Linked DNA regions of Homo sapiens. The protein of the gene in region 2 interacts with the protein of the main gene of each other region in a biochemical or structural test. Each region holds a gene or a part of one and is shown on either strand. Other genes may lie near its edges. The genes, in order: PAK4 and MMP2.

Region 1 (3,810 bases), on a different chromosome or scaffold from region 2:
GGGAACCCAGGAGGGGCAGGTCTGGAGGACACTGTACCCTGGAGCCCAGGCGGGCCTCAGTGGGTGCGAGGGGCCTGGAAGACACTGGGTCGGGGGTCAGTGGCCCGAGGAACCCTGGGTCTGGGGCTCAGGGACAGAGATGTGGGTGAGGGTGCTGTGAGGACAGAGGCAGGGACCCAGCTGGGGCGGACGAGACGGCCTGGGGAGGGAGAAGAGTGAGGGGAGGAGGGGAGCCTGGCCCAGCACGGAGGAGTGCAGGGAGAGGAGGGAGGAGGGGAGGGAGGGTGGGAGGGAGGGGTGGGAGGACCAGCAGGGCGGCAGGGCAGCAGCGCCCGCACCTCGTTGAAGAGCAGCTCGCGCCTCTGCTGCTTGCGCAGGTCCATCTTCTTGACGGCCACCAGCTTGCCCGAGCTGCGCACGGTGGCGATGCACACGATGCCCGTGGAGCCCTCGCCAATCTTGATGAAGTTGTCCAGGTAGGAGCGGGGGTCGCCTGGGTCCACCACCAGCTGCAGGGCAGCCCGGAACTGCTCATGGGATACTCGCTGTGGCTCCCGCTGTGGTGAGCGGGGGCCAGGGGGCCCAGGAACAGCAGGGGCGGCGGGGGTGCAGGCTGGAGGGGCCAGCTGGGGCTCTGAGGCGTGGGGTCCCAGCACTCCAGGGCTGGGGGCACCTCGGGCTCGGGTGGGAGGCCGGGAGGAGGAGGAGGAGGACTGGGGGATGGCCAGGCCCCCCGCTGATGGCCCGTTAGGGGCCACGTCATGAGGCTCCCCCTGAAACAGAAGAGAGGTAGCTGTCAGTGATGGGTGCCAGGGAGCAGCTCTGCTCCCTAAGCAGGAGAGAGACCCAGCGATGGGACAGACACATGGGTGGTCAGGATGAGATGCACGGTGGTGGGGCGGGGCTGGAAGGTGGGGACAGAGGAGCAACGGGCAGGGGACAGTGGGGGCCCTGGGGCGGGGGATGGGTTACCTGGGCACCCCGGGATGGGTGGTCCGTGTCAGCCCTCGGGTAGGTGTTAAAGGGCCGGCCAGCTGCCAGTTTCGCCCCACTGGCCAGACCAGCAGGCTGGGGGGTGCCGACATCAGGCCCGGAGAGGGGGCGTTTGTCCCGGGAGGACTCCTGGGGACCCCCTGAGCCCTCCCTGGAAGACTTGGGCCTCTTCTCTGGCCCCGCCCGTCGCCTGTCACCACTGCCGCCACCCGCCTCGCTGTGACCGGCGAACCGGCCTCGGCTGCCTGCCTTCCCTGGGCCCCCTCTGGCCGTGGTGGCCGGCTCCTCTGGCATCCCATTTTCCTGGCGGGCACGGGCGGGCGGCGGCGGGCTGTCTCTCCGCAGGGAGTTGGAGCGTGTCACCGACATGTTCTCAAACTCGTCCAGCAGCAGCGTGAGGGCCCCATCTTTGGCACCTTTGCTGCCCCGCACGATGGTCTGGGGTCCCAGGCAATGGTGGGTGGGGGCCCAGCAAGGAGTGGGGCACACAGGACGTGCATCCGACACGCAGGGACAGGACAGCACGACACACACAGAGACAAGACAGAGACGCAATGAAGAGATGCCATGGAGTGACAATGGCATGGGCAGTGCAGCCCCTCCCCTCCCTGGGGACACAGCTGCAGGGGCCAGAGGAGTGATCGCCATGGCCAGGCTGCTGCCCCCTGGGCTCGGTGGGACCCTGGAGAGGCCCCCCTTGTTTTTCTCCTGTTCCTCACACTGGTGGAATAGTCCTGCCCTGAGGGGTTTGGGGGAGGAAGGGCAGAAATTGACCCACCCCATAATCAGCCCCGAGGGCTGCAAATGACAGGGCGCTGGGGCCAGGGCCTGGCCTGGCACTTCCTCCCATGTGGGCGCCAGTGTTCCTTAGCCCCAAAACCACACTCTCTGCTCCCATGAACAACAAGGAGTGGGGGACAGGGAGAGTCAGAAAGGCCTGGTCCCAAAGTAGAGGGCAAGGGGGTCCCAGGAGCCGGGTGGCAAATGCAAATGCAGATGGGGACCAGGCAGAGCATCCAGTGCATCCCGAGTCACCCGGTCCCCACCCTCTGTGGTCTGAGTCGTGTCCTGCAGGCCCCCTCTGCCCCCGTTCCATTTCCAGACACACGGGTGTCTCCCCCACCCCCGCCCCCCTGCGCCCAGGGCCTCTCCGCTGGCGGCTCCCTCTGCCTGGAACATCAGCTCTCAGGGTCCCTGTGGCTCCCTCCCTCCACTCCTTCAGGTCTTTGCTCAAAACTCAGCTTCTCAGTGAGGCTTCTGCTGGCCTCCCATCATCTAAAATGCCAGCCCCTGCCCTCCCCGGCCCCTGCCCTGCCTGCATTCTACCTAGAGCACCTAACAGCAGCTGATACAGAGCACACAGGCATCTGTCTGCTCCCGGCTCTGCCTAGTGCATGCTCTGGGCAGGGATTGTTTTTTCCTGTCTGCTTCGGGTCCTGCTCCATCTCAGCACCTAGACCAGCATCTGGCGCACAGCAGGGGCTCAGTGAACTTTTGCTAAACCACGTAGTGAGTGAGGTGTCTGTGCAAAGGCCACAGTGAGCTGAGAACGTGGGCCCTGCTGACAAGGACCCTGCCCGGGGCTGCCAGATGTCCTCCAGCCGGAGGCCTGCCTCTAATGTGTGGAAAACACTGATCCCACGAAACCCGGACCCTGCCTGGGGCTGCCAGGCATCCTCCAGCCAGAGGCCTGCCTGTAACGTGTAGAAAACACTGATCCCACAAAATCCGTGGTCTGCCGCTGCCCTGTCTCTCCTGGCCGTGGCTGTCTGCCTGAAGCCGGGCCTTGCCCAGGGGCCCCAGGAAGTCAAGGTGGACACAAGGCCAGACTTTGCTGTTAGAACAGGGCGTTGAGGCAAGAAGCAGTGGCTCACGCCTATAATCCCAGCACCTCGGGAGGCTGAGGATCACCTGAGGTCAGGAGTTTGAGACCAGCCTGGCCAAAATGGCGAAAACCCGTCTCTACTAAAAATACAAAAATTAGATGGGCATAGTGGTGGGCGCCTGTAATCCCAGCTACGCGGGAGGCTGAGGCAGGAAAATCGCTTGAACCCAGGAGGCGAAGGTTGCATGAGCCGAGGTGGCGCCACTGCACTCCAGCCAGGGAGACAGAGCAGGAATGTCTCTCAAAAAAAAAAAAAAAAAAACCAACAGGGAGTCGAGAAGGTCCTGGGAGGCCTGAGGCCCGGTCAAGGGCAGCAAACACAAGTGCCTATGGGGCCCCAGGACAGTGCTGGCCACAAGGCCCCATGTGTGAATTCAAGTGCCCTGCCTCCTGCTGGGACAGTCACAGGCAGGCCTCACATCTGGCAAGCCAGGCAGGGGCTGGGTTTTTGGAGACACCTTGGTGGGGGCAAAGCCTACATGCAAGTGGCCACAGAGCCAGGCAGGGCGTGGAGCTGAGGTGGGTCGGGTGCGGCCTGTGGCCCAGAAGAGCCAGTGCCCTGCCCGTGGAGGCAGCTGCCACTCGCCTCCAGCTGGTCTGTCACCAGATGCCAGAAACGGCTTTGGAAGTGAAGTCTGTCACTTTCTCAGTGGAGGCAAAGAAGTCAAAGCATTCAAAAGCACCCTGCAAGGACCACACGGACCCCTCAGTGGGCTACCACATTGAGGCTGCACTTGTGTCTATGGCCAACTTGTGGGCCTTGGGGCTTCTCCCCGCCAGGCTGGGCTGGGCACCGGGAGGGTGAGTCCCCAGGCACACCCATCTCCACCCGCTGGATGCAAACCTGGCCGAGTTCCCCTTGGCCTGCGGCCCCTCCTGGTCCCCACTGACCATGGGAGAGAGTCCAGGCTCCAAGGCTGGCTTCAGAGGCC
Region 2 (3,810 bases):
AACAGCCTTGTGCAGGAGGGACTGAATAGCACCGCGTTTCATGGATGGGAAATAGATCAGAGAGATGATGAAATTTCCCTAAGCCAACACTGCTAGGAAGTATCAGAGCTGCAATTCAAACCCAGGAAGCCAGATTCCAGAGTTCTAATGAGCCTCCCATGGAAGGGGGCAGATGGGCTAGGGGCAAAGGGAGTTGGATGAAGCTGATGGCACCAGCACATGCCCCTCAGCTGTGAGCCCCCTTGGGCAGGGCTTTGCAGAGACCAACCTCTGTGTATGCTGCACAAAGCAGGCGCTCAGTAAATTCCTGTTGGAGGAAGGGAAGAAGGAAAGGAGGGAGGGATAGAGAGGAGGGCAGGAAGGAGACAGGGAGGAAAGCACGGAGCTCTTAATAAAAAACAGACTAAAAGGTGGAGATACAGACCAGGAAAGGCAGGGAAGAGAGATTGCAGGGTCAGAGAGGAGGAGAGAGAAGTCTCTGCCAGAGAGCCTGAGAGAAAAGGGATGCAGGTCGGTCAGAGGATCCTGAGCAGGCCTGACATTTAAGTGTCACCAATTCAACTGTTGATGCCCAATGTCTGTTCTGATTTCAGTGCCCAGGCCATACCAGGTGACAAGTATCCTGACTAGCTACACGGACATCTTGGTGTGGATGTCATTCGCACAGATGTCTTAGCACCCCTGTCTTGGGGAAAGGAGGTGGGCACTCGGAGTCTTATGGGTTTTTTTTTTGTCAGACAGCAGGTGCTGGGCCCTGAGGGAGGGAGAGGGAGTGGCACCCACCGGTCTCAGGGCAGAAGCCATACTTCTTGTCGCGGTCGTAGTCCTCAGTGGTGCCGCACCAGCGGTAGCCATCCGTGCGGCCCTCAGTGGTGCAGCTGTCATAGGATGTGCCCTGGAAGCGGAATGGAAACTTGCAGGGCTGTCCTTCAGCGTTGCCGCCCATGGTGAACAGGGCTAAGGGTGGGGGAGAGAGGGAAGGATGTGAATGAGACATGCTTCCATGGGCACAGGGCTGGCTGGCTGCCCACCTGCCGGTTCACACCAGTGAAGTTGATGCATTGTTAAAATATTAAGAAAACATCTCTACTGGTTGGTAAGGAGCTGCTTCTCTGAGCTCCCAGAGAGAACCCCTGCTTCCCTGGTTATCCCAATCCCTCCCGTGGGACCTTGTGGACCACCCAACAACAAAATGATTGACACCTGGCACACAGCAAGGGCTTCTAGAACCCTGCCTCAGCCCCAAGGGCACTGTCCATTCTGCCTGGTCCACACCTGTACCATGCAAATTTCATGTAATAATGATGTATGACATGAATATATCAGTCATGGCAGGCAGGACCACGAGAATCTCTCTCCATTTGATAGGTGGAGAAATCAAGGCTAGGACAAAGATGGTTCTCAAACTGCTCATGGTCACAGAAATGAAAGAAGTGAATGAAGGTTGTAACTAAAAACTACAAAACACACTAATCTCAATCTCTCTTGCTTAGTCTGTCACTCTCATATATGTGTGTGTGCGTGCACACGCATACACAGAAAGCTTGCTTTACCTCCTGTCAACCCCAGGCCCCTTCCTGGATGGCCTTGTTGCAGTCTCTGTAGGAAGGAGAGAAAGAATGAAGAGGAGGAGGGAGGGAGAGGGAGGTGGTGCCTTCAGGTCCCTTTTACTAAACACTCTGGGCTCCTACTTTGACATCTTCAAGACAGGGGCCATAAATGGAGAGTTGGGGGAGGGAGTGGGGTTCAGAGCCTGGCCTGTCTGTCTTGGATTCTCCCCATCCTCCCCTCATCCACCCAAAGCTAAAAAATGGTGTCTCTGGAATTGCCAACCAGCAAAACCACAAGTCCATAACAAGGACCATCTGTGCACAACGGCGCCAGAGGTGACCTCACCAGCCCCCGTTAACTCCACCATGGCCGGAATGGAGCCCAGTCCCTGGCCTCCCACCACAGAACTCGAGGCCCTGTATCCTCACCACTCCCCTCTCTACCAAAAGACCTTGTCCTGCAATGCCAGAAACAATGGCACCTAGAGAAAAGGCAAGACTGAGTCCAGATACCTTAGTGGCCTCAGAGTTGAGAAAGGCAAAGCGTTAACTTCGACCAATGCCAGCCCCCTGCCTCTGACCTCTCATTTCTACCACCCAGGAAGCCCCTGTCTCCTCCCAAATTCCCCTGACAAGGATGGCAAGAATCAGACACTGACTCAGCCATCAGCAGGGGCTGAGTAACAACAATCTCTGCCTCGAGACCCAGACACGTGCGTGTTGTGCGTACTTGCATCTGGCTAAGCACAAAGTAAATGGCTAATGTCCAATGCAGGGAATAACCCTTCCCAAATTTATGAAATACAGCTGTTTCCACATCTAACTATCACCAAAGCTTTCTGTTCCTATCAGAGGGGTGACACAGGGAAGGGTTAACGCCACATGTAATCCCTACCGGGAAACGCAAGATACAAAAAATATTTTTATTTCAAAATGTCTGACTTATTAATGGTGAATGGCTTAAACTCTTACTTAATATAAAGTTTAGCTCTGGTAGTAAAAGCATAAACAGGAAGGGAATTAACTAGCTCTTTGTTTCTTTCATTCTGTCAAGATGGTTGGTGCTTAGTTTTCAGTTACAGTGGGGTTAGGGAGATTCACAGACATAAAATTACAGACAAAAAGACAGTCTTTAGTCTATGTAGACTATAGAGTCTTTGTGACATGGGAAAGAAGATAGTGTTAAAAATTTTTAGACTTTTTTCCATTTTCGCCAGGTTTTCTGGGCTTTCAATCTGCAGAATTATCAAATATGATGACTTCATAGAGTATGAAGTTACATTGTCTTTTTGTGATTTATGACTATTAAGTGTGTCAAGGATATTTTTAAAAAGGATTGAGTGTGTATGTCAATATCTGTACCCCATTTTAAAAGATTTCCCCCATGTGGCTTCAAAATCTCTGAAATGTTGCATCTCAGGCACTGACAAGCACACAAACACAAATACTGAGTCAAGCCTAAAGTCTTTATCAAGACACAGAGATGCAGACACAAGCTAGACAGGAGGCAGAAAAAGACAGTGCCCAAGAGAGGCAGATAGTATAGCCCCCGTGCCCAGACACACACACACACACACACACACACACACACACACACACACAGGCACACACACACACACACACACACGCATTAGCAGAGGCAGCATCAGGACCAAGGCAGGAGCAATAGCTGAAATTCCTCAGTTGGAGTACGCAAACCAGGTTGAGTCCAGCCCTGGTCTGAGTCCTGCCTCCCTATCACACTGCTAGGTTTCCAGCTACCAGCAAGCCTTTCCTCATGCCCTTGAAGTATCAATCTTGACTGAAGTGTAAAGACTGGTTCTAGAGAGAACCACTGGGCATTGTAATAGTTCTAAGTTCACTCCAATATATATTAGAAATAAATAATTAGCAAATCAAATCTGTGACTTCCTAAATGATTGCTAATGGTGAAACTTAAAAAAAATCAACTTGATTTAATTAGAGTACTACGTTCATCATGGTACTGGTGGGAGAGAAACAGCAATGGCTCAGATCAGGATGGGGGGGAACTGAGTGAAGGACGTTGGAGGGATGCTCATTAACTGGCAGTGGCAGCCAGTCCTGGAGAGTGTGGAGGGAAGAGCACACTGGGGAGCCCGGGAAGCTGGAGGCTTGGGGTGGAAAGTCTTGGGGACTAGAGTGGATGCTCACCTTCATGGGGACAGAAGCCGTACTTGCCATCCTTCTCAAAGTTGTAGGTGGTGGAGCACCAGAGGAAGCCATCGCTGCGGCCGGTATC

Evidence for each region.
Region 1: the proteins of MMP2 (region 2) and PAK4 form a complex in vitro, tested with the Homo sapiens proteins (one study listed by BioGRID).

What each region holds. Positions count from the first base shown.
Region 1 is NC_000019.10:39,170,539-39,174,348, reverse strand, and holds part of PAK4 (serine/threonine-protein kinase PAK 4), read right to left. Parts: intron 1,432-3,810; coding exon 973-1,431; intron 774-972; coding exon 339-773; intron 1-338. UniProt on the Homo sapiens protein: Serine/threonine-protein kinase that plays a role in a variety of different signaling pathways including cytoskeleton regulation, cell adhesion turnover, cell migration, growth, proliferation or cell survival.
Region 2 is NC_000016.10:55,485,690-55,489,499, reverse strand, and holds part of MMP2 (72 kDa type IV collagenase isoform 1 preproprotein), read right to left. Parts: coding exon 3,723-3,810; intron 958-3,722; coding exon 784-957; intron 1-783.